2 separate regions of the Homo sapiens genome follow, and region 2 is linked to region 1. The links come from fine-mapping of genetic effects on gene expression. Tissue or cell type: whole blood. Region 1 holds a variant in brackets; the other region holds the start of a gene. All regions are shown on one strand. Distances are from middle to middle.

Evidence for each region.
Region 2: BHLHE40 starts here. The variant in region 1 is fine-mapped to the expression of BHLHE40 in whole blood (TOPMed, PIP above 0.99).

Annotation. Positions count from the first base shown.
Region 1 is chr3:4,929,887-4,941,656 of GRCh38, reverse strand. The region is part of intron 1 of BHLHE40-AS1 (BHLHE40 antisense RNA 1); the gene reads left to right. Among named protein-coding and RNA genes, the nearest start is that of BHLHE40, 44 kb to the left of the region's middle. The variant A/G (reference allele first, on the strand shown) is at 5,600.
Region 2 is chr3:4,971,799-4,983,568 of GRCh38, reverse strand. It overlaps BHLHE40 (basic helix-loop-helix family member e40), which reads right to left and starts at 4,132. Exons shown (of 5, transcript NM_003670.3): 1 at 3,771-4,132; 2 at 3,538-3,607; 3 at 3,161-3,268; 4 at 2,054-2,177; 5 at 1-733. The coding sequence starts at 3,850. It overlaps BHLHE40-AS1 (BHLHE40 antisense RNA 1), which reads left to right and starts at 3,608. Exons shown (of 3, transcript NR_125916.1): 1 at 3,608-3,774. RefSeq lists enhancers at 1-259, 260-819, 3,149-3,743, 3,851-4,000, 5,301-5,420 and 3 more and silencers at 4,151-4,210, 4,421-5,190.

The DNA.
Region 1 (11,770 bases):
CCACCATTTTAATTTATGTAGTTTTATCATTTTCCTGTTTTTTTAAGCCCTTTAATTTCTACTTCAATATGTATTATTCCTTTCCTTATGTTTTCTTTTGGTTGATTTTGTTGTTATTTTTCTAGCTTATTTGAGTTGGAGTTTAATTCACTTGTTTTCCTCTTTTTATTTTTATTAATGTAAGCATTTAAGGCTATGAATTTCCCTCTGATCACTAGTCTAATGTATCCCATAAATTCTCATATACAGTGATTTCATTATTATTATTATTTATTATTATTTTTTTTTCAGACAGGGTCTCACTCTTCACCCAGGCTGCAGTGCAGTGGACCAATCATGGCTCACTGCAGCCTCTACCTGCCAAGGCTCAGGTGATTCTCTTGCCTCAGCCCCCTGAGTTGCTGGGACTATAGGTACGTGCCACCATGCCCGGCTGATTTTTGTATTTTCAGTAGAGACAGGGTTTCGCAATGTTGCCCAGGCAAATCTCGAACTCCTGGCCTCAAACAATCCACCTGCCTTGGCCTTCCAAAGTGCTGGGATTCCAGGCATGAGTCACTGCACCTGGCCTCATTACTATTCTTTTTTAGAAATGCCACCATTGCAGTTTTTATGCCCACTTTCACCTAAGTGTTTTTTTTTTTTTTTTACAGGCTCATATCTGACCAATCCTCATTGTTGTTTAATAGACAAGATTTAAATTTTCACCTGTAAAGGCCTTTAAAATATTTTGTAGCTTTATTGTATTGTGATAAGAATTATGCCTTATTTTTATTTTTATTTTTAGAGACAGGGGTCTTGCTATGTTGCCCAGACTGGCCTCAAACTCCTGGGCTCAAGTGATCCTCCAGCCTTAGCTTCCCAAGAAGCTGGGACTATAAGCACATACCACTATGCCCAGCTAGAATTATGTTTTAAAGCACTTAACAGTTAAAATGTTTTCCTCCTAGAACATTTAAGTGCAATTGACACGGGAAGATGTGCTATATTCACCTGGTGGCATCTCATATCCTCTGGCTTACAACCACATATCTCTGACAGCGTGTTCAGCATTTTTTGGGTCACACTTTTTAAAGAGTAAAATCAGTTCTTCTCATAATGTTCTAGTATTACCTTTTAAAAAATGGTTTTCATTTATTACATATGTATTTTTTTAAGAGACAGAGTCTTGTTATGTTGCCCGGGCTGGAGGGCAGAGCCTATTCACAGGTACTATCACAGCACACTGCAGCTCTGAACTCCTGGACTGAAGCGACCTCCCACCTCAGGCTCCCGAGTAGCTGCGACTGTAGGTGCACCACCGCACCTGGCTAGTATTACCTCCTTCTTCTTCTTCTTTTTTTTTTTTCTTTTGAGACAGAGTTTTGCTCTTGTTGCCCAGGCTGGAGTACAATGGCACAATCTCAGCTCACTGCAGCCTCCACCTCCTGGGTTCAAGCAGTTCTCCTGCCTCAGCCTCCCGAGTAGCTGGGATTACAAGTGCATGCCACCAAGCCTGACTAATTTTTTTTGTATTTTTAGTAGAGATGGGGTTTTGCTATGTTTGCCAGGCTGGTCTCAAACTCCTGGCCTCAGGTAATCCACCTGCCTTGGCCTCCCAAAGTGCTGAGATTACAGGCATGAGCTACTGTGCCCAGCCAGCTAGTATTACCTTCTTATCAATAGAATGATAATGTTTGATTAAAATGATCTGGTTATATCAGACCATATGGTTCACTAAAATACCAACCTAAAAATATATATGCCTTCAATTTTCTTGTGGTTCAATAATTTTATGAGAACCTAAATGCTTCCTTTTTTTCCCACTTCACTGAGAAAATTTTATCTCATGCAGTCTTTGTTTTACTGTATACTAAAGGTCAACTAATGGCCTACAGTTCTACATTAAGAGCAAAATGATGGCTGTATTTACCAAAACCTAGCATAAGACCTAACAATTTATGAATGTTTAATGAATATTTTTGAAATTCATAAGTGAATATTCTAATATAGATTATAGTTTACTTTTGTAAAATAACAGCACTTTGATAGATCTTTAAGTAGTTAAGTATGATTGCTTTAATCTTACTACTAAAAACCATTTTCTATCATATTTGTAATCTAAGTTTAATGGGTTGTAGTGCCTTTTAGCTTAAGTGCAGTGGATTGGAAACAGCATTTTTAAGGGTGGGTGTCAGAAGACCTAGAGTTTTCTCAAGCTAATGGGAGGAAGGAACTGTTGTCTTTAAGTAATGAATCATAGATTCTTTTTTTTTTTTTTTTTTTTTTTTTTTAGACGGAGTTGGAGTTTTGCTCTTGTTGCCCAGGCTGGAGTGCAATGGCGTGATTTCAGCTCACTGCAACCTCCACCTCCCGGGTTCAAGCAATTCTCCTGCCTCAGCCTCCCAAGTAGCTGGGATTACAGGTGCCCGCCACCATGCCCGGCTAATTTTTTGTATTTTTAGTAGAGATGGGCTTTCGCCATTTTGGCCAGACTGGTCTCAAACTCCTGACCCCAGGTTATCTGCCTGCCTCGGCCTCCCAAACTGCTGGGATTACAGGCATGAGCCACCATGCCTGGCCAAATCATGGATTCTTTAAAGTGATGTCAAGAAGATAATTCTTGAAAGGATCAAAGGATGGCTTCACAAGTCACCAAACATTTCCCTTAGGTGAGGGTCTCCAGACAGAATGTGGAATGAAACACAGTTTTGACAAGCAAACCTCTTAGAATTGTGTGATGGTCTGTAACATTTGGTGAACCATGCCTCCTGGTACTTACACCCTTTCATAACCCGCTCCCTTGAATCTGGACTGGCCCTGGGGCTCATTTTAACCAATGGACTGTGATGGAAGTAATGCAAGCTCCAGGCCTAAGCCTGTCAACTTCTGCTTTTCACTCTTGGAACCAGCCACCATGCTCTAAGAAGCCCAAGTCACATGGAGGGTGGGTGTCAGAAGACCACACAGAGCAGTGCCAAGGCACTCCAAGAGTGAGCCATCTTGAATGTATCACACCAGACTGAGCCCTTAAATCATGGGTGGTCAAACAGTGCCTTTCAGTGAAATCTGGTCCGCCATCTGATTTCTGTAAATCAAGTTTTATTGGAACACAGCTACGCCCTTTGATTTATATATTATCTATGACTACTTTGTCACAACAATGGTATGGCTGAATCATCATGCCAGTTGACCATATGGTCCACAAGGCCTAATGTATCTGTTATTTGGTCCTCTATGGGAAAGTTTGCTGAGCCCTGCCCTAGATGGCTGCAGCACCAGCTGGCTTCATGTGATGAAGAAATGCCAACCTGAGCCCAATCCACCCACAGACTCATGAGCCACAGTACAATGGTTGCTGTCTTAAACCATTAAGTTTTGGGATGCTCTGTTATATAGCCACAATAGTGACAAATTATACAATCCAATATCTGAATTGTATAAGCTTGATGATTTCATAGTTTAAATTTTTATGCTCTTTTCTTTTGTTTTAACTCTTTGTAAGCTTTATTTAACATTTTCTAAGTTGTGTTATCCATGTGTCATTGAAACTTCTCTTACCAAGGCAACCTTCTCCTTGTTGTTACATTCAATGGAGGTTTTTCAGTCTTCACCTCATTTGACTCTTGACCAACATTTGACACTGTTGAACTTCTTGGTTCCTGAGATATTTTTCCCTTTTATTCAGTTACAGCATTATCTCCAAGCTTTCTTTGGTTTTACAGGAAGCTCCTTATCAATTTTCTTTTGGAAATTCTGCCCAACACTTAATGTTAGAGTTTCTCAGAATTCTGTCTTAGATTTCATTCAATATTCAAAAGATATATATTTTTTAATTCATAAGTGAATAATCTACATATAGATTATACTTTATATCATTTCTATGTAGAAATACAAATTATTTTAAATTATAATTTGTATTTTTACATAGAAATTATATAAACTATAACATAATGTACTTTATGCCAGGCATTTTTCTAGGTACATTGGATACCTTAATAAACAAAACAGGCAAACAAAAGTCGTTCCTGCCCTTGGATAAATTTTTAAATGTACACATAATAAAATAAATTTTTGCAAAAGCTAGAAGTTGATAAGTGCTTTAGAAAAGAAAATCAACAGGGAAGGGGAAGGGAAGTAGGGAGTACGCAGGGGAAGGGGAGGGCAATTTAAAGAAGGGTACTCAGAATAGGCCTTTTTGAGATGATGATATTTGAGCAAAGCCTTAAAAAAGGCAAAAGACCTGACATGTACCTATGTCAGCATTTCTGGCAGAGAGAGTAGTATTTCAGAGACCTGAAAGCAAGGAGCATGTCTGAAAGGTTTGAAGACAAGAAGGTTGTCCCCTGTGGTGGAAACGAGTGAACATCAGGAGATGAAGTTGAAGAAATCTCAGGCTCCCGGGGTCCTGTAGGACCTTGTAAATTATGGTCAGGCATTTGTGTTTTCTGAGTGAGATGAAGGGTTACAGGGGAATTTTGAGAAGCATGAAGTCATCCGATCATCAAAAGAATCACTGTAGCTGCTGAACTGAGAAGAGAACAGAGGTGGCAGGAAGGGCGATAGAGAGACCTGCTAGAAGCTCTGGGAGTGACCAAGGGCAGCAGTGGAAACAAAGAGGAGTGACCATCTCTGGACAGTCGTACAGACTCATGCTTCCATGGTTCCTATTACCATTCACATGCTGATACTCCCCGGTCTATGTTCTAGCCCAGATGTCTCTCCTGAGTTTCAGACCCACATATTCCAAATACCTGTTTGTCTTCCCTTTTTTTTCCATGTTCCACAGGCACTTCAGTTTCTACGCTTTCCTCTAAAGCCTTTTTCTCCTCCCATGCTCCCTCTATGTCACTACTAAAGCCATGCAGCTACACCTTTCTATGAAGGCATTATCTTTAAAAGGTCACTGTTAAAACATATGTTAGTGGAGAATCTGTGCTGGTCCACAGACATTTTGGTTTCCACTAACACATCATTATGGTTTAGTTTATCAGCTTTTCTGCCTATGATGGTGGCTTTAAGGATTGGATATAGGATCAGCAGGTTTTAATTGGCATAGGAAGATGGAATCCTGCCTTAGAAGTCAGTTTAGGGCAGGGTGTACCATATTGGTGGGATGCTGAACACCCTGAGGATGGAAGATGGGAGTTACTGAGGGAATTCCTTTCATTTCACAGTTTTACCCAATACAGGAACTGTCACTGGAACACATAATTCTGAAATTGTCAGTTTTGTTACAAATAGTGCACTTATCACGTAACCGTCGTGCAAATAAAATTCTGTATATGTTATAGAATTTTAATATGTGAATTCCATTTTCTTCCATCTCTCTTAGGAATTGTTTTGTCCACTTGCCATAATAATTTTAGAATTTTGCATTCATCCTATTGACTTGTAGCAAAGGCAATACTTTCACTCTGGAAAACATTTAGTCTGAAGGTTGTGTGACTCCTTTTTCCACGATCTTTGTTTTTTCATAATTCGTGTGTAAAGGAGTTTACACATAAATATCTTAATCTTTTATTTCTAACCCTTACAAGAGTTTTTTTTTTAAATAATAGATACAAAGGAAATAAGTTTTCCTAAATTATATTTTACCACATCATACTTGTATGTGGGA[A/G]CAAGTCTTATAAAAATCATTAATGTGAAACTAACTAGGCCAAGGAGAGCTATTATTTTTTATTAGAAAATTAACTTCAAAATGAATGTTTAAATACAAGCTTCACATAGTTAAAAATGCAATTAAGGCTGATTCATTGACACTTGAAAGCTCTTTTTATATATTTATCATTTATTCAACAAATATTTATCAAAGGATTGCTCTGTGCCAGGCAGTATGCTTGCACTTGGGGTGGAGCATAAACAAAGACAAGGACCCTGCACTGTGGAGCTTAATTCTAAAGGGAAAAGTAGACAAAAAATAAGTTAAAAAATAAATTACTGCTTGCAAAAAGTGCTAGGAAGGAAATAAACCAAATGGAGAGAGAGAGAGAGAGAGAGAAAGGAGAGGCTACTTGAAAGAAGGTCTTTCTGAGAAGATGAATGTGAGTTGAGACCTGAAACCACAAAGGTGAGGTTGAGTCAGCCATGAGAACTGAGAAATGCCTCCCAGCAGAGGGACCAGCAGGAGCAAAGGCCCAGAGGCAGGAAAGGCTTCATGTTCCAGAAACAGAAAGGAGGCCAAAGTGGCTTCAGTGAAGTGACCAAAAATGAGAGGCACCAGACAGGCTGGAGGGAGGGGCAGAAGCCAGATCACGCAAGACTCTGTAAGCCTTGGGAAGGAATTTGGATTTCATTCTGAATGTGATGAGAGGACAATGAAGGGCTTATGAAAAGGAATGATTTGACCTGATGCTCTCCTTTTTGTTTTTTTTTTTTTGTTTTGAGATGGAGTCTTGCATTGTCACCTAGGCTGGAGTGCAGTGGTGCGATCTCCACTCACTGCAACCTCCGCCTCCCAGCTTCAGGAGATTCTCCTGCGTCAGCCTCCCAAGCTGCTGGGATTACAGGTATGCACCACCAGGCCTGGCTAATTTTTGTATATTTAGTAGAGACGGAGTTTCACCATGTTGGCCAGCCTGGTCTCAAACTCCTGACCTCAGGCGATCCACCATCCTCGGCCTTCCAAAGTGCTGAGATTATAGGCATGAGCCACAATGCCCAGCTCTCCGGTTTTTTATTTATTTTATTTTTTAATTTTTAATTTTTATTTGTTTTAATTGTGGGAAAATACACATAACATAAAATTTACCATTTTAACCATTTTTAAGTGTACAATTCAGCAGTATTTTGTACATTCTCGTTGTGCAACTGTCACCACTGTCCATCTCAAGTACTTGTTTCATCTTCCAATGGAAATTCTGTCCCTCTTAAACACTAACTCCCCATTCTCTGCCTCCCCTCCCACACCATCTAATCACAATTCTACTTTCTGTCTCTGATTTGCATATTCTGGGTACCTCCAATAAGTGGATCATATAATATCTGTAATTTTACCTGGCTTATTTCACTTAGCATCATGTTTTCAAAGTTCACTCATGCTGTAGTATGTGTCAGAATTTCATTACTTTTTAAGGATAAATAATATTTCATTGTATACACACACTACATTTTGTTTATTCATCTGTTGATGGACACTGTCTTCTGCTTTTTAATGAAGGATTAATTATTTCAATGCTTTTTGTGGGAAGAAACAACAATATGAAAAATAGTTGTTGAATGGAGTTGTGTCTGATAGGATTTATACTCAAAATGATAATTGTGTAAACAAGGTATCAGTTTGTTTTTCTCTCACATAGAGGTAGATGGTCCAGGACCAGTATGATGGCTCCATACTTGTCAGGTTGTCAGGGACCCAGAATCCCTTCTGGCTTTCTCCTCCATCATCTTTAGCACAAGGGATTCCCATTCAAGGTCATCTCATGGTCACATGATAACTACAACAGCTCCCACAACCACATACGACCTCCAGGCAGCAGGAAGATGAAAGAGGGTAATACAAAATGGTGGCCAAAGACAAAATGTGCCACAACCGAGTGGTATGCTCGTGTAATTTGTTTTTAGAGATGGGGTCTTGCTATACTGCCAGGCTGGACTCAAACTGCTGGTCTCAAGCAATCCTCCTGCCTCAGCCTCCTGAATCACGTGCCACTGCATCTGGCACTGAGTTATATTCTTTAAAGAACTCTCCTAGAAGCTCATTGGCTGCCCTCACCTGCAATGGAGGCTGGAAATCTAGACTTATAGCCGTGCACCTTACCACATCCAGCATTATAGGGAGGTCTCTTCAGAAGGAAGGAAAGAAGGAAGAAAGAAATTCCTGATTGTCTCGGAAATAACAGAAGTGTTCTTGGTATCTTGGCATTTTGGCTGCTTGTGATGGTTGAATTTTAAAATTATAGCAATGGCTCCGTGGAAAATACACCATTTTTTCTTTTTCTTTTTTTGATACGGAGTCTCAATTTGTTGCCAGCCTGGAGTGCAGTGGCACAATCTCAGCTCACTGCAACCTCTGCCTCCTGGGTTCAAGCGATTATCCTGCCTCAGCCTCCCAAGTAGCTGGGACTACAGCCGCGTGCCACCACGCCCAGTTAATTTTTGTATTTTTAGTAGAGACAGGGTTTCACCATGTCGGCCAGGTCAGTCTCGATCTCTTGACTTCATGATCTGCCCGCCTCGGCCTCCCAAAGTGCTGGGATTACAGGCATGAGTCACCGCGCCCGGCCGACATCATCCTTTTAAGAGGAGACAGTGTGTGGGAATTAAGTTGCCTTGCTGTTAACTTTTCAATTGGCCCATAGGCGATTTCCCTGTCCTATCTACTTATATTTGAAATCCACTATTAAATGATAGAACTCAGAGGTACATGTTGTGCTTATTGGCTAAAGAAATCTTTTTTTGTGTGCAGTTGCAGTTGGTTTTCTTTTCTTTTTTTGTTAAAAATTTAAACTTAAAAAGGACTAAAGTCACTTCTGGAATTTCAGGAGTGGGTGGAGGTTTAAACAAATAACAACAGAAAAAATGAGAGTGAGTATGTCCAATCAGATGCACTTTCCTCTAGTTAAAAATAAATAAAAATACTAGTTTTTTCATGTTTTCTTCACCCACTTAAGAAGCATAAAATACATTTTTTCTTTACTTTTGTATTAACGTATGGTTTACATATAGTAAAGTCCAAAAATCTTAAATGTAAAGCTTCTCTGAATTTTTACATTTTACATTTACATTATACACCTGTATAGTTGCCAACTGGATCAAAATATAAGCAATTTCCTGCATCTAGAAGTTTCCCTCAAATCCCCAACCAATTTCCCCCCCAAAATGCAACTACTCTTCTGGTTCTTCTTATTATAAGTTAATTTTGTCTGTTCAATAAAATACATGTATGTATGTATGTATGTATGTATTTATTTATTTATTTATTTATTTATGTTTTAGAGACAGAGTCTCACTCTGTCATCTAGACATTACCTCGGCTCACTGCAGCCTCGACTTCCAGGCTCAAGTGATCCTCCCACCTCAGCACCCCCGCCACCCCGAGCAGCTGGGACTACAGCCACACATCACTATCATCCCTGGCTGATTTTTGTATTTTTTTATAGAGACGGGGTTTTGCCATGTTGCCCAGGCTGGTCTCGAACTCCTGGGCTGAAGAGATCCTCCTACCTTGGCCTCCCAAAGTGCTGTGATTACAGGCGAGACCCACCATGCCCAGCCTAAAATACGAGTTTTCAAACTTTTTATTTGGAAGCTTGAAGAAAGGTTGCAAAAACAGTACAAAGAGCATCCTTATTCCCTTTACCCAGATTTACCTGTTGTTAACATTTCTTTTCTTTTTTTCTTTTTCTTTTTTTTTTTTTTCTCACCAAGACCAGGCTCTCAAACCTGCTGTTAACATTTTTCTCTCCTTTATAATTTGCTCCTTTTCTCTCTCTCCCTGTCTCCACCTCCGTTCCCTCCAGCCACACATACTTTTTTCTGAAGTATTTGAAGTATTGAGGTGTGTTTGTTTTTGTTTGTGGTAGAGATAAGGTCTCACTGTGTTCCCCAAGCTGATCTCAAACTCCTGGCCTCAAGAGATCCTCTGACCTCAGCCTCCTAAAGCACTGGGACTACAGGCATGAGCCACCACACCTGGCTGAGGTGTTAATATAATATTTTCATCTAGTGTACCACCCATGCTCCAGTTTTGTCAATTGACTCAATAATTTTCTTTTTTTTAGCATGTTTTCCTCTTCAATACAGGATCTAGTCTAGGATCTGGCATTGTATTTAGTTGTTACATCTCTTTAGACTCCTTTAATCTGAAACAATTTTTCAGCTTTCCTTTGTCTTTTATGACAGTGACATTTTTGAAAAATACAGGCCTTCTCTTTTTAAACTAGAGTATTTCTCATTTTGGTTTAGTCTGATGTTTCCTTGCTATTAGATTCAGGGTCTCCACACCTAGCCATAATACCACACATCTGCCCCATGCTGGTGCTGTTAATTTTGATAATCTGGTCAAAGCTTTGTCTGATTTTTCCACTGAATACTTACTATTTTTCTTTTACACTTAACAATCTGTGGGTAGACATTTAAAGATCATGCAAATGCCCAGCTCTTCATCAAACTCACCCTCCTAGATTTAGCATCCATGAACAATTCTTGTCTGTATCAATATTTACTTTGTCGATTGCAAAAAATGATGATTTTCCAATGGCCACACTCCATTTTTAACTTCGTCTCAGGACGACTTTAGGATTTAGAACATCCTAAAAAGAACAAACCAACGGCCAATTCCTAATTTCTCTTAGCATGGTCTCTTTATTCTGCTTGCTGCTATATACTTGAAGTTACCCTTCTCCCATTTGTCTCTCTTTCCTGGTTACTTCAGCTGCAGATTTCATCATGGCAGATTTCACCTATGGAAGAATTTTCCAGTAATCATGCTTTTGAGTACACCTGGGCATTTGATATCTGCTGTCTTTAGACCCTTAGAAGATGAAGTACTTCATCTTTCATTTAGAAAAATAACCACACACTCTCATACGATTATTATTCTGAAGACAGAAATCCAAATTATTGATTAGTGGTTCTTGGGGGAGGGGGAAGATATGGTTCCAATTAAATATGATGTTTCAGATAAACACCAGCATTAGAAACCACTAGAAGTGATAGGGAAAATATGACATTGATGTTTTTAAATGGAAGCTGTTCTCATTAGGGGCATGATATGCAAATTGCCAGTAAAACATCAGAGATAACAAACATTTTATTTGTTTTCTCAATTACAGAAGGTTGCCTTATTTTTCTATTCCTTAAAAATATGAATATGTTATAATTTTTCATAGAAATTCTCCCTAGGCACATATCTTTCTGCCCAGGGACAGCTACAATGGCAACTCTAGTAGTTCCATCCTTAAACCTTATCTTCATACCTGTAATCTAGACTGGAGGCCACTGAAGTGCAGGCTAATGCTTCTGGTTGGGGACCTGTAGGAGGCAGTGGTTGGATTTTAAACCAGTTACCAGGAAATGATCTTCCTCATCTCAAAAATCAACGATTCCACTTTGGGAAAGAGTTTTGCAGTTTTCCAAAAGTTAAACATAAAACATATGACCAGCAATGCTATTCCTAGGTATCTACCCATGACAAATGAAAATGTGTCCACATAAGGACTTGCACATGAATGTTCACAGATGCTTTATTCATAATAGGCCCAAACTGAAAACAACCTAATGTCCATCAACTGAAGAATAGATAGACATAATGCGGCTTATCCATGAATGGAATTCTTTTCAGCACCAAAAAAGAACAAATTACTTACACATGCTACATCGTGGATGAACCTCAATAATATTATGCTGGCTGGGCAAGGTGGCTCATGCCTATAATCCCAGCACTTTGGGAGGTTGAGGCAGGAGGATCACTTGAGCCCAGGAATTTGAGACAAGCCTGGGCAACATGGCAAGATCCCATCTCTACAAAAAATAAGAAATTAGCCAGGTGTTGTGGCACATGCCTGTAGTCCCAGGAGGCTGAGGCAGGAGGATAGCTTGAGCCTAGGAGGTCAAGGCTGCAGTGAGCTGTGATTGCACCACTGCACTCTAGCCTGAGTGACAGAGTGAAATCCTGTCAAAAAAAAAAAAATAGTATGACAAGTAAAAGAAGTCAGACACAGGCAAGCATGTATTGTATGATCCCATTTCTATGAGATATCCAGAAAAAGCAGATTTATAAAGACAGAAAGTAGATTAGCAGTTGTCTGGGTTATTAGGGCTGGGAACAAAGATCACCTATAAATGGGTA
Region 2 (11,770 bases), 42 kb before region 1:
GAGATCTTGTCTGGGTTCATGAAGCTAGAGAGGGCTGCGGCAGAGGCGTTGAGGCCTGGGTATAGCACTGGCACTGAGGTGGGATACCAGCACTTCTCCAGCATGGGCAGGTAGGCAGTCGCTGAAGGTGGGATCAGGTAGAAGGGCAGGCAGAAAGGAGGCTGGTGTGGGTGTGGGCCCAGGAACGGGGAGCTGATCAGGTCACTGCTAGTGAAATGGCCTTCATCATCCGAAAGCTGCATCCGGTTCTTTTTTGTGGGGGGTTCTTCGGACTCTTGCTTAATTGCGCCGATCCTTTCTCCCATCGTGAACCTGCGTCCGTGGTCACTTTTGAAGCACGGCTGCTCACTGCGCAAGTCGCCCTTCTCCGATTCTCCTCCATAGCCACTGTCTGTGTCCGTGTCGCTGCCGCTCTGCTCCCCACTCGAGTGAGCGAAAGTCCGCTGGATGACTGGCACGCAGTTTTTCCCAGGACCTTCCGAACCTTTGGCCGGAGAGCTGGGTTTTTCCTTGAAGTCCATCACTTTGGGAGCTGGGTCTGATGGCTTCCTGGAGGTACCACCCTGCAGCAGCTCCGAGACCACCCGGTGGAGGTGGGTGACAAGCTGCGAAGACTTCAGGTCCCGAGTGTTCTCGTGCTTGGCCAGATACTGAAGCACCTCCCGGGCACATGTCTGGAAACCTGAGCAGAACATCTCTTGACCTGTTTCGACATTTCTCCCTGACAGCTCACCTGGGGAAAGAAAAATCCGAAGGAAAACGTTTCAGAAGGCCTGTGGCGCACCTGGAAACTATACTCCAAAAAACCAGGTGCTTTAGTTTTTGTTAAAAAAAAAAATGCATTTACTGATTTGTGTTCCTAACTCCAAAAGTAGTATGCTCAGAGAAGAATTACACTGAAAAGTATAAATAATTAAAATAATCCATATACTAACACTCAGATAAAATATGATTTTTAATGGTTGCATAATATCCTATCATGGAAATGGACCATAATTAATATGAGATGAGCTGTTTCCCCTCTTTTGGATTGTATAGGTGGTTTGTGAGTTTTCCATGTAAGCGAGGCAGCAAAGAACATTCTGATGTATTTATAAACCTAAGAGTCAATGCATACAACATTGCACCGTGGCAAAATGGGCAGAGGCTGGATAGTTATAAAATGAGGAAAAGAATGAAGAAACAACAATCACCTAAAGTAAACTTATTTTCAATGATTTGTAAAAGTTGCAGTCATGCTGTGACCTTTAATTAGGCTATTTCTATGTCTTCTCCACATATTCTATCCATGATCCTCAAGACATTAGGTATGACCATCTTCCTATTTTGAATGAGGAAACAGGCAGAAGCACTAGCTGGGTTTTTGCAATTTTCATCATACGAGCCTTCGAGAGGAAGGCAGACAAGCATGAAATGAGGGAGTGGGTAGAATAATTCTCCCCAGTCTGTACAGTATTATTTGGAAGAAGTGAGACTAGAAGGTTAGAAGGTTGACTCCGATTATCTGGAAGTCAGTAGAAACGAATGATGAAACTTCAGTGGTTTCGCTAGATTGTGCAATTCACCAAGATACCTAGTGGCTATTCAGGGAACCACATGAAATGCAGGAAAAACTCCTGCTGTATCCTGCCAGGATCACACCACACACCAAGTGACAAGGAAGCAAAGAAACAGGAAAACGCTGGGGCATACCCATGATTTCTTCTCCAATGAAAGAGGGCTAAGAAGACCAACTGTAAAACACCCACAATGCAAATTATAGGTGCCTTGGCATTTTAAAAGGGAGTAGGGAAATCTCCCAGAACCCAGAGACTCTCAAGCTAAAATGCCACAGGAATATCTTATCATTTCACTAATACGTATTCATGCCAGGTGGCACAATGCATTTCAAATGAAAAGTCTGACCTTTTAGGAAAGATAAAACTGCATCTCCCCCAATGAACGTGCATAAGCAATTTGTTGCAGTAATGTTTATTACATCAGATGTTGAGCCCACGGGCTCTCTATTTGCACTCAAACTCTTAAAGAGAGCATAGCCAGAATCAGCACTCACCAGCTTGTAAACCACTCTGCAGGGCAATGATTTTCTGCTGCTGCTGATCAATTAGGTTTGTTAGTGCTTTCACATGCTTCAAGGTAAGTTCAAGAACCACTGCTTTTTCCAAGTGACCCAAAGTCTGGAAGGAAAAGAGCCTTAGTCAGCGGTGAGGTCAGAGAAGTCCCACCTTTGGGACATTTATTAGCAATGAGAAATGAGAAAAGAAAAAAAAAAGTGGAATAGTGTTTCCTGGTTGGCTGTTTTAAGTCTGTAGGTCATGCTTTTAAAAAGATAGACAGATACACTCATATATGTGTGTGTGTGTGTGTGTGTGTGTGTGTGTGTATATATATATAATATATATATATAATTAAATAATTTAAAAAAACGGGTGCCACCTGTCTTTGGAGGCATTTTGGAAGCTGCAACTACCTCAGGAAAATCCTTTGACAGATAAATTTCTCCAGCAGCCTCTGCCGACCTTAACTCAGGGGAATCCAGAGATAACATTTTCCTGCAGTGGTGTCAACTCAGAGAGGGACCTCTATTACGTCTGGCAGCCAAGAGGCTTTCCCTACTTCTTTCCTTACACCCTTTCAGAACTTCCAGCTCATCCAGGCTTTTTTGTTCCTCCCGAAATACTATTTTTTTTTTTTCCATTTCCCCAACCAAAGGCTGCGAAGTAGCCGAGGGCTACTGTCAAGAAAGGACAGGCCGTAAAAATCACACACCAAAGCAAGTCCCCTTATTTGACAACAACAACAAAAAAGGTGGGGGGAGTGGTAGAGGGGAAGGGGTAAATAAAATGTGTGTGTTTCTTGGCGTGTTCCTTTAAGTGAGAAAAACTAGGGAATCCTGAAAATCACCAGAAGTTAAACTCCTGAAAAGGAAGGCCAGTTGGTGTTGGAGCCAACTTGGAGAGGTCCAAGTGGTTCTCGCCTCATTTGCATGAGTCAGCCAGAAAACGCCAGGACTGTGGAGGAGGACCCCACCGCAGAGCCACCCGCCAGCTCTGATCCGCCAGTCTGGTCTGCAGTTCCCCGCGGAACCTGCAGGCGGCGAGTGACCCGCCCGCCCTCTGGGCAAAGGACTGGGTTGGAAAGGGGCCAGCTTCTCACTTACTGTAAGTTTGAGATGTTCGGGTAGGAGATCCTTCAGCTGGGCGATGCACTCGTTAATCCGGTCACGTCTCTTTTTCTCGATGAGCCGGTGCGGCAATTTGTAGGTCTCCTGCAAGACGCACGGGGAGGCGGTGGGCGCTTGGGGAAGGAGATGAGAAGCCTATCCTCCCAGCCCCGCAGCAACAGTCCGGCAGAGGAGCAGAGTAGCAGAGTAGCACCCAGAACCATCGTCTGCCCTTTCTTTTCCAAGTCACTCAGAAGAGGCACCGAGCCCACACCCTGCATCCCCTCGCCAACCTCAAAGCGAGAAAACTTTTCTTGGAAACTCAGCGCGCGCGAGGGGCTGAGCGCAGGGTCCCTAGGGGTGCACTTGCTTACCTTGCTGTCCTCGCTCCGCTTTATTCCCCGTCTTGACTTGTACACTTGGTACATGTGGGCAGGGTACATCCTGCAGGAAGAGAGACCAGGAAGGGTCGTGACTGCTTGCGCACGGCTGCAGGCGTTCTGCCGGGCAAGAACCTCCCGGTGCGCCCGGAGCTGCTCCAAGTTGAGAGTGGCGCATAACATGGGGCTGCAGTTGAGGCTTGAAGGGCCAAGGAGTGCCAACTTACCCTGGTAGGTCTCCGTGCTCCAGTCCCGGTGCTTTGGGCAGGCAGGCGGGGGGTGGTTGCGCGCTGGGGATCCGCTCCATGGCGCGGCGAGCCGGGGCCACTGCGCGCTCCTGTCTGCACTAGCGGAGCGTCTGGATGAGGACTGCCCTGGAGAGGGCTTCGGGGGTCTCTCCGCAGATGTTCCTCTGAGTCTGAGCTCTTTGAAATCCCCTGGGCTGCTGGAATCTTCGGCTTTGAGATGCAGCTTCAGTTGGGGGCGTGCATGGCCCGGTGTCCCCGCGGCCTCTGGCTCCGACTCAGCGCACAGACTGGCGGTGTGTGCTCCCTGCGCGGTCTGTCTGCGCCGTGCGAGCCAAGTGAATGAGAAGTGGGGCGGGCGGGGAGGCGGGAGGGAGCGGGTGAGGGGGGGGCGGTTAGGGCGGAGTGGGGGGGTGGGGGGGCAAGCCGAGGAGTAATGGAGAGGCTGCGGGCTGGGTTAAATGGGAGCGAGTGGGTGGGTTGGAGCTACGTGTTCTACCCTGTGACTCCAGGCACGTCTGGCCACTGCCGGGGAGGGAAGGAGCGACCTGCCCGCCCTCCCCCGGCTTCATCACATGAGTCTCACGTGTTGGACAACGCTCCGGCGGCTGCTAGGGAGCCCCCACCCCCAGCCCCGGCCCCCAGGTGTCTGCGGCTGCGGCCGCCTTTCCCCGAAGAGGGGGTGGCAGCACGACCTGGGTCCTGCCCAGTTGGGTGGGGGGCGCGGAAGCTGGAAGGGACGGGGGTGCTGGGGGAGGGGGAGAAGTTGGTAACGTGGGCGAACCTGCCCCAGGGAAATGAAGTAAGTTCCCGTCTCCTGGGAGGGAACGGGGGAGGACGGATCCGCCCGCGTCTGACTCAAGCCGGGAGAGGAATATCCCCTTGCTAGCTCCAGCCCAGCCCTCTTCCTCCTCCCCCGCCCGGCCCGCTTGGAGGAACCGGCGCGCTGCGGAGGGAGTCGCCCGGCCCCCCAGCCTTCCCCAGAGGCTGGGGTTTCTTTCCGTCCTGGCTTCCCTGCCCCCACTGCTCACCCTCGCGTCCAGGAATTGCCCGCCTTGGGGAGGGACCGAGGGGCGGGGCGGATGTCACCCCATGGGAAGCGGGCCGACGGCCAAGCGCAGGGGCAGCTGAGGCTGCCGCCGAGCACGCCGCGCGCACCTGACCGTGGAGGGTGTGAGCCGAGGGCCCCTCGCTCCCAGGAGCTCCGCTCCTGGGCACAACCTGCGGGCGGGCGGGCACCCGGTTGCGCAGCCCCCTGGGTGCCCCAGTGTCACCCCCTTCCTCCCGGCCAGTCAAGCGCAGAAAGATACCGGGCGCTGTGCCCGGCGCTCCCTCCCTCCTCTGCCCCCTCCGGAGCAGAGGCGCCCCGGTCGCCTCCCCTCCGGCTGCAGCGTTACACAACCGCGGCGGCGGCGCCTGCCCTGCAGCAGCGCAGGGCGTGACGCTTCACGTGGCCGGGCTCAGGTCGTAGCACCGCGGACCGCGAGCCTCTCTGCGTTGACCCAGGGACTGAGACCCCGGGGACGTGGCGTGCCAGCCCGGATCGGCCCTCTCCCTGCCTGTTGGGAAGTTCGGCGGCGCTGTTCGCGGTCTGCACCCAGGGCAGGAGGGATGAGAGAGACAAGAAAAAAAAACCGCCTGTTACAGGGAAATCTTAGCAATCATGCGGTCGACACGTATTTCTTGAGCCCCCTGCTCTGCACTAGGCGCTGCACTAGTTGATGAATCCGACACGGATCCTGCCCTTGAACTTGCAGAACCTCTAGGAAGAGGTTAAATTGAGCAATAAAGGAAAGGCAGCCCTGGGAAAATTGTATCGAGGCCACTGGCTGACAGAGGGGAAAAACAATGAGAACTTGTGTTGCTTTGTGTTTTGTTTTTAATTTCATTGTAACCGAGATGCCTAGGTAGAGAAGCGGGGGAGAAGCTAACCCAAAGCCCCAAGCCCGGGGCGGAAGGACCTCCTCCAGCGGCCCCAGATCTCTGCAATCTCACTTAGGCTGCCGGAGGGCCCCACCCACCTCCCCCGGAAAGGTCCGGGCTCTGTGACCTTCTCACTCAGCCGGGAGCAGGGAAAACAGCTGAAACTCCAATCCCGCGGTGTGAGCAGCGCTGATACAGTCAGAGGAGGGAGCCAGTGGAAACTCATGACTAAAATAAGGCCTGGCTGGGGATTTCACTGACCTCTGCGCTCCCCTGCCCTGCAAGTTCGGGGAGTTGAGAGATGACTGTAAGCCCTTCCCACTGCGCTTCGGGTCAGTCACCCCACTGCTGAGTGACCTGGCTGTGGGAAGGATTGAAAAAAAAATGGGGTCACTGCCGAGACTGGGCGAAGAGTAGTAGCCTCGGGTGCAGTTAGGGGATCAGTCTTAACTGGCAGTGCCCTTGACGACCTAGAGAACTGGCATTCACAAGTTGACCAAACTGGCAGTGTATTTCCTTCAGGTCGCCTTGGAGAGCTCCCGCTTCCTGTTTATATTTCACAAGCGTCAAACTCTTTAGCAAGTGTGAGAAATGCCTCCTTTTCTAACTGCTAACTGGCATGACCTCACTTCGGGGCTCAGAGATCCCTCCCTGCCAGAATGTACTTTTGCTGGCCAAAGGCGGGGACCGGGGTCCGCCCTGGAAACGCGCTTTCAATCTTGGGCGACCTGCTTCATTGTGTGATTTTAATAAGGATGAAGGGCTGTCACGGCTGCGTCAAAACCACGGTTCCAGCAGGAAATAAGCACTGGGAGAGGACAGGACACGTACCCCCTTCCGCCGACACCCCCCACCCGATGGCAGGAGGGAGCCCAAACCTTGCAGCTTCCATGGCTCATGGCTCATGACAATATCATTCTTAAAATTCTTTGAGTTTATCAATACGTTTTGCCCTTACCTGCCCTACAACTGTAAATAACAAAATGTATGCATTTCCTACTTTTTATTTGTTCCGAATGTATTCTCAAGCTTCAAGAACGGTTCCCATCCTACCAGACTTCCACCGTATCAGGATTAAAAAACAAAACAAAACTCTGTTATTCTCTCCATAGCTTATGGCTTTTAAAAAATAATAATTTGAACAAACAATTCCTACGTGGCATAGATCTTTCCATCCTGGAGAATGTTACTATTTCAGTCTGTCATCTTTTGTAGATATTAAAAACCTTTCGTATGTCAATTTCTTTGCTCCTCACCACCACCTTTTAGGCAGGTACTAGTATTAGCTCGATGCATTTGACACGTGTTTATTGTTATTCAATGCCAGACACTGAAATAGGCCCTAGGGATGTATAACATATTCTGTTTGGAAAATTGAGGCTCAAGGAGGCTAAATAACCTGCCCCAGGTTATATAGTCTGGGATTCAGTCTGAGACAGGCCCCCAGGTTTGTTGGACTCCAAAGCTTGTGCTCTTAATCACTATACTTACGGTTGCCTGGTAGGGTTGTTTGGGTTGTGCACCGCTCAACTCCAGGGGGAGCTATTCACATTGCAGTCTGTGTGAGAGCACCCTCTGGAGTTGTGCAATGTGGCACTGAGCAGCTGCACTGGGTAATCCTGCCATTTTGTAGCCGTCCCTGCTGTTTTGTCTCTTCTAAGTGGGGAGAGAACATAATTTCGTACAAGAGAAAGATGGGATCTTTCTCTTCTTTCCTATTGGGACTCAGCATCTTGGTGGCCTTACACTGTGTGCTGAATGAGTCTATACTGTTACTATCTATAGTAACTCCCGGGCCCTTCCTGTGCAAGAATTTAGAGCCCCAAGCTCCCCTATACATCCCCACAACTTGCTTGCTCAGATATCACTTTTTACCTGCTTATGAAGCCTCAAAAATTTTTATCTCAGCTCACGGTAAGAAATACATTTTACATCATGTCTCAATACACACACGTATGTCTTTACACACATCTTAAGTATATTTAAGCATAGGGCAGCCAAAGCTTGGTTGGGCTATAGCAATAAGTGACCGCTACCCTCTCTCCTATACTCCTGAGTAACCATTGCTCTCTTAAAAAAGAAAAAAGAAAAAATTGAGCCACTTAGAAAGAAGTCAATCAGGCCGAGTGTGGTGGCTCATGCCTGTAATCCCAGCACTTTGGGAGGCCAAGGCGGGCGGATCGTCTGAGGTCAGGAGTTCGAGACCAGTCTGGCCAACATGGTAAAACCCCAGCTTTACTAAAAATACCAAAAATCAGCCGGACATAGTGACGGGCACCTGTTATCCCAGCTACTTAGGAGGCTGAGATAGGAGAACTGCTTGAACCCAAGAGGCAGAGGTTGTAGTGAGTGAGCCGAGATCACACCATTGCACTCCACCTTGGGCAACAAGAGCAAAACTCCGTCTCAGGAAAAAAAAAAAAAAAAAAAAAGTCAATCCAATGCATTTCAGACAAAAATTTCACAGAACAATATTTCACTGTTATTATATACATTCTGATACTTTCCAGTTTAGTCTCATCTGTTTTATTAAAAGTATTCAGGTCATGACTTACTAAGTTGATCTCACCACTCACCAATGGATCATGACCTGAAATTTAAAAACTTGCCTGTGGGGCACAGTGGCTCACGCCTGTAATCCTAGCACTTTGGGAGGCCAAATCAGGTGGATCATGAGGTCAGGAGTTCAAGACCAGCCTAGCAAATATGGTAAAACCCCATCTCTACTAAGAAAATTAAAAAATTAGCTGGGCATGGTGGTGCACGCCTGTAGTCCCAGCTACTTGGAAGGCTGAGGCAGGAGAATCGCTTGAACCAAGGAGGCAGAGGTTGCATTGAGCCGAGATCATGCCACTGTACTCCAGCCTGGGCGACAGGGTGAGACTCCGTCTCAAAATAAATAAAAAATAAAAACTTGCCTTACTCTAGAGATAGTGTTGTATTTTTGGCTTGGCCCCACCAGAAAGAGATCAGTGGCATCTGCACACTTGAAGATCTTCCAAATAACTTATAAAAATGTTAAATAAAATTGCTGATTCTGGTTGGACTCAATGGTATAGAGGTCTCCATTCAGGAAAACATCTGTTAATTCCTACCTTTGTTCCCTATTTATAATCAACCTTCTCATTTTCTGCTCTTTTAAAAAATAACGGCATTTAATTCTTTAATTGAGAGGTAAACATAAAATGCAGATCTTAAATGTTTGGTGTATTATTTTTGGTAAATGTACACCTATGTAGCCACTGCCCCACACAAGATACAGAACACTTTTATCACCCCAGAAAGTTTCTTTATATATCATTTTCCAATCAATCCCCCAACCCCCACAATTACTTTCTGATTTCTATCACTATAGATTAACTTTGTCCATTATTGAGATTCGTATAAATGAATGTACTCTTCAAAGTTTCTGTCAATATAGTTTTGAGATCCTACCATATTAGCACATGTATTAGAATTTTGTTCTTTTTTATTGCTGAGTGTATTTCATCATACACATATAGCACAGTTTATCTAGTTCCCTGTTAATGGATATTCAGGTTGTTTCCAGTTTGGGGCTGTTATGAATGAAGCTGCTATCAACATTCATGTTCAAGTTCTTTTGTGAACGTATGTTCTCATTTATGTTGGATAAATATTAGGAGTGGAATTCTTGGGTCACAGATTAAATATATGTGAACTTTATTATAAATTGCCAAACAGATCTCCAAAGAGGTGTTACCATTTTACAATACCACCAACAATGTATGAGAATTCCAGCTGCTCCACAACCTTACTAACGTTTAGGGTAGACAGATTTTTAAATTTTAGCCATTCTAATGGGTATGAAATAATATTTTATTGTCATTTTAATTTGCATTACCCTGATAATGAAGTTGAGCACTCTTTCATATGCTTATTGGCCATTGGTATATCTTATTTTCTGAAGTATTTGTCCACATCTTTTGCTTAGTTTTTAAATTGGATTACTTACCTTTATAATTGTTGTATATGGAAATACAATCCAATTTTCTATATTGACCTCGTATCCTGCAACTTTGCCATTATATTGTTGACTTTTAGGAGTTCCTTATATATTCTAATTACAAGTGCTTTGTCAGAAACACGATTTTATTAATGATGTCCTTTATGAGTAGAATTTTTAGTTTTGGTAGAGTCCAATCTATCAGTATTTTCTTTTACAGCTTGTGCGTGGGTCTTTATCAAAAAATTTTGCATGACTCAAGTCAGAAAGATACTATGTTTTTCTCTAGAAACTTTATAGATAAGATTTTTGTACTTAGGTCTGTGATCTGTCTCAAAGTAATTTTTTGTTTATGGAGTGAAAGAAGAGTCAAGATTCAGTTTTATGTTCCAGCAATACTTAACAAGACTTTCCCTTCCCAATCGGATTTACTTCACCACTTTGTTGAAAATCAATCAACCATATCCGTGTGGTTCTATTTATATACTTTCTGTTTTGTTTCGTTGGTCTGTTTGTCTAGGTTTCACCAATACCACACTATCTTGATTACTGGAGCTTTACAGAAATCTTAAAATTGGATGGTGTAAATCTTCTAACTTCGTTCTTTTTAAAGATTGTTTTGGCACGCCTGTAATGCCAGCTCTTTGGGAGACTGAGGTGGGCAGATCACATGAGGTGAGGAGTGTGAGACCAGCCTGGCCAACATAGTAAAACCCCGTCTCTGCTAAAAATACAAAAATTAGTCGGTCATGGTGGTGGGCACCTGTAATCCCAGCTACTCAGGAGGCTGAGGCAGGAGAATCGCTTGAACCCAGGAGGCGGAGGCTGCAGTCAGCCAAGATCACACCACTGCACTCCAGCCTGAGTGAGATCATCTAAAAAAAAAAGATTGTTTTGACTATTTTGGGTTCTTTGCATTACCATATAAATTTTAGATTCAGCTTTTTTCTTTCTTCAAAGAAGCTTGCTAGAATTTCTATGGGAATTGCATCATACCTATAGATCAGCTTAGGAAAAATGAACATTTAAACAATATTATGCCTTCTTATCTATGAATATGGTATAGCTTTACATTTTTTTTTATGATGTCATCTTCATTTCTTTCAGCAATATTTGTAGTTTTCTATGGAGAGGTCTTACACATCTTTTGTTAGATCTGTTCCTAGCTATTTGATTTTTTTAAATATGCCTGTAAATTTTAAAACATTTCCCAATTGTTTATTGAGTGTATATAGAAATGCAGTCAATTTTTGTATCTATAACCTTGCTAAATTCATTTATTAGTTTGAGTAGTATTTTTGGTAGGGTTCTTCACATACGCAAACATGTTGTTTGTGAACAATGACAGCTTTACTTCTTTTCTGATCTTTTAAATTTCTTTTTCGCCTTAATACTTTATCAGGATAATGCTGGTCTTATAAAACAAGTTGAGAAATATTACTTCTTTTCTGAAGGAGCTTGTGTAGGATTGGTAATATTTCTTCCTTAAATGGAGAAGCCACCTGAGCCTGAAGTTTTCTTTGGGGGAAAGATTTTTACTATGAGTATAATTCCATTAACAGATATTAGGCTATTTAGTTTTTAATTTCTTCTTTCATTAGTTTTGTTCATTTGTGTTTTTTAAGAAATTTGTCTATTTCACTTAAATTTGCCAATATATTGGTATAAAGTTTTATCAGTTTCAAAGTTTATAGTCAGTAGTAATAAACCCCTTCTCACTCCTTTTAAAAGTTTTTGTTAATGTATGTATTTTTCTTGATTATCTTGCCAAGGGGCCTATCAATTTTATTACACTTTACAAAGATCGAAATTTTGATATTATTGATTTTCTCTATTGTTTGTTCATCTTATATTTCATTAATTTTCTCTTTTTTTCTTTTTTTTTTTTTTTTACTTATTTTGGATTTAATTTGCTCTACTTTTTCTGGTTTCTTGTGATGCAAGGTAATGTGATTTTAAACTTTTCTTCTTGTTACTTACTTTTTTATTTTTTATTATACTTTAAGTTCTAGGGTACGTGTGCACAACGTGCAGGTTTGTTACATATATATACATGCGCCAGGTTGGTGTGCTGCACCCATTAACTCGTCATTTA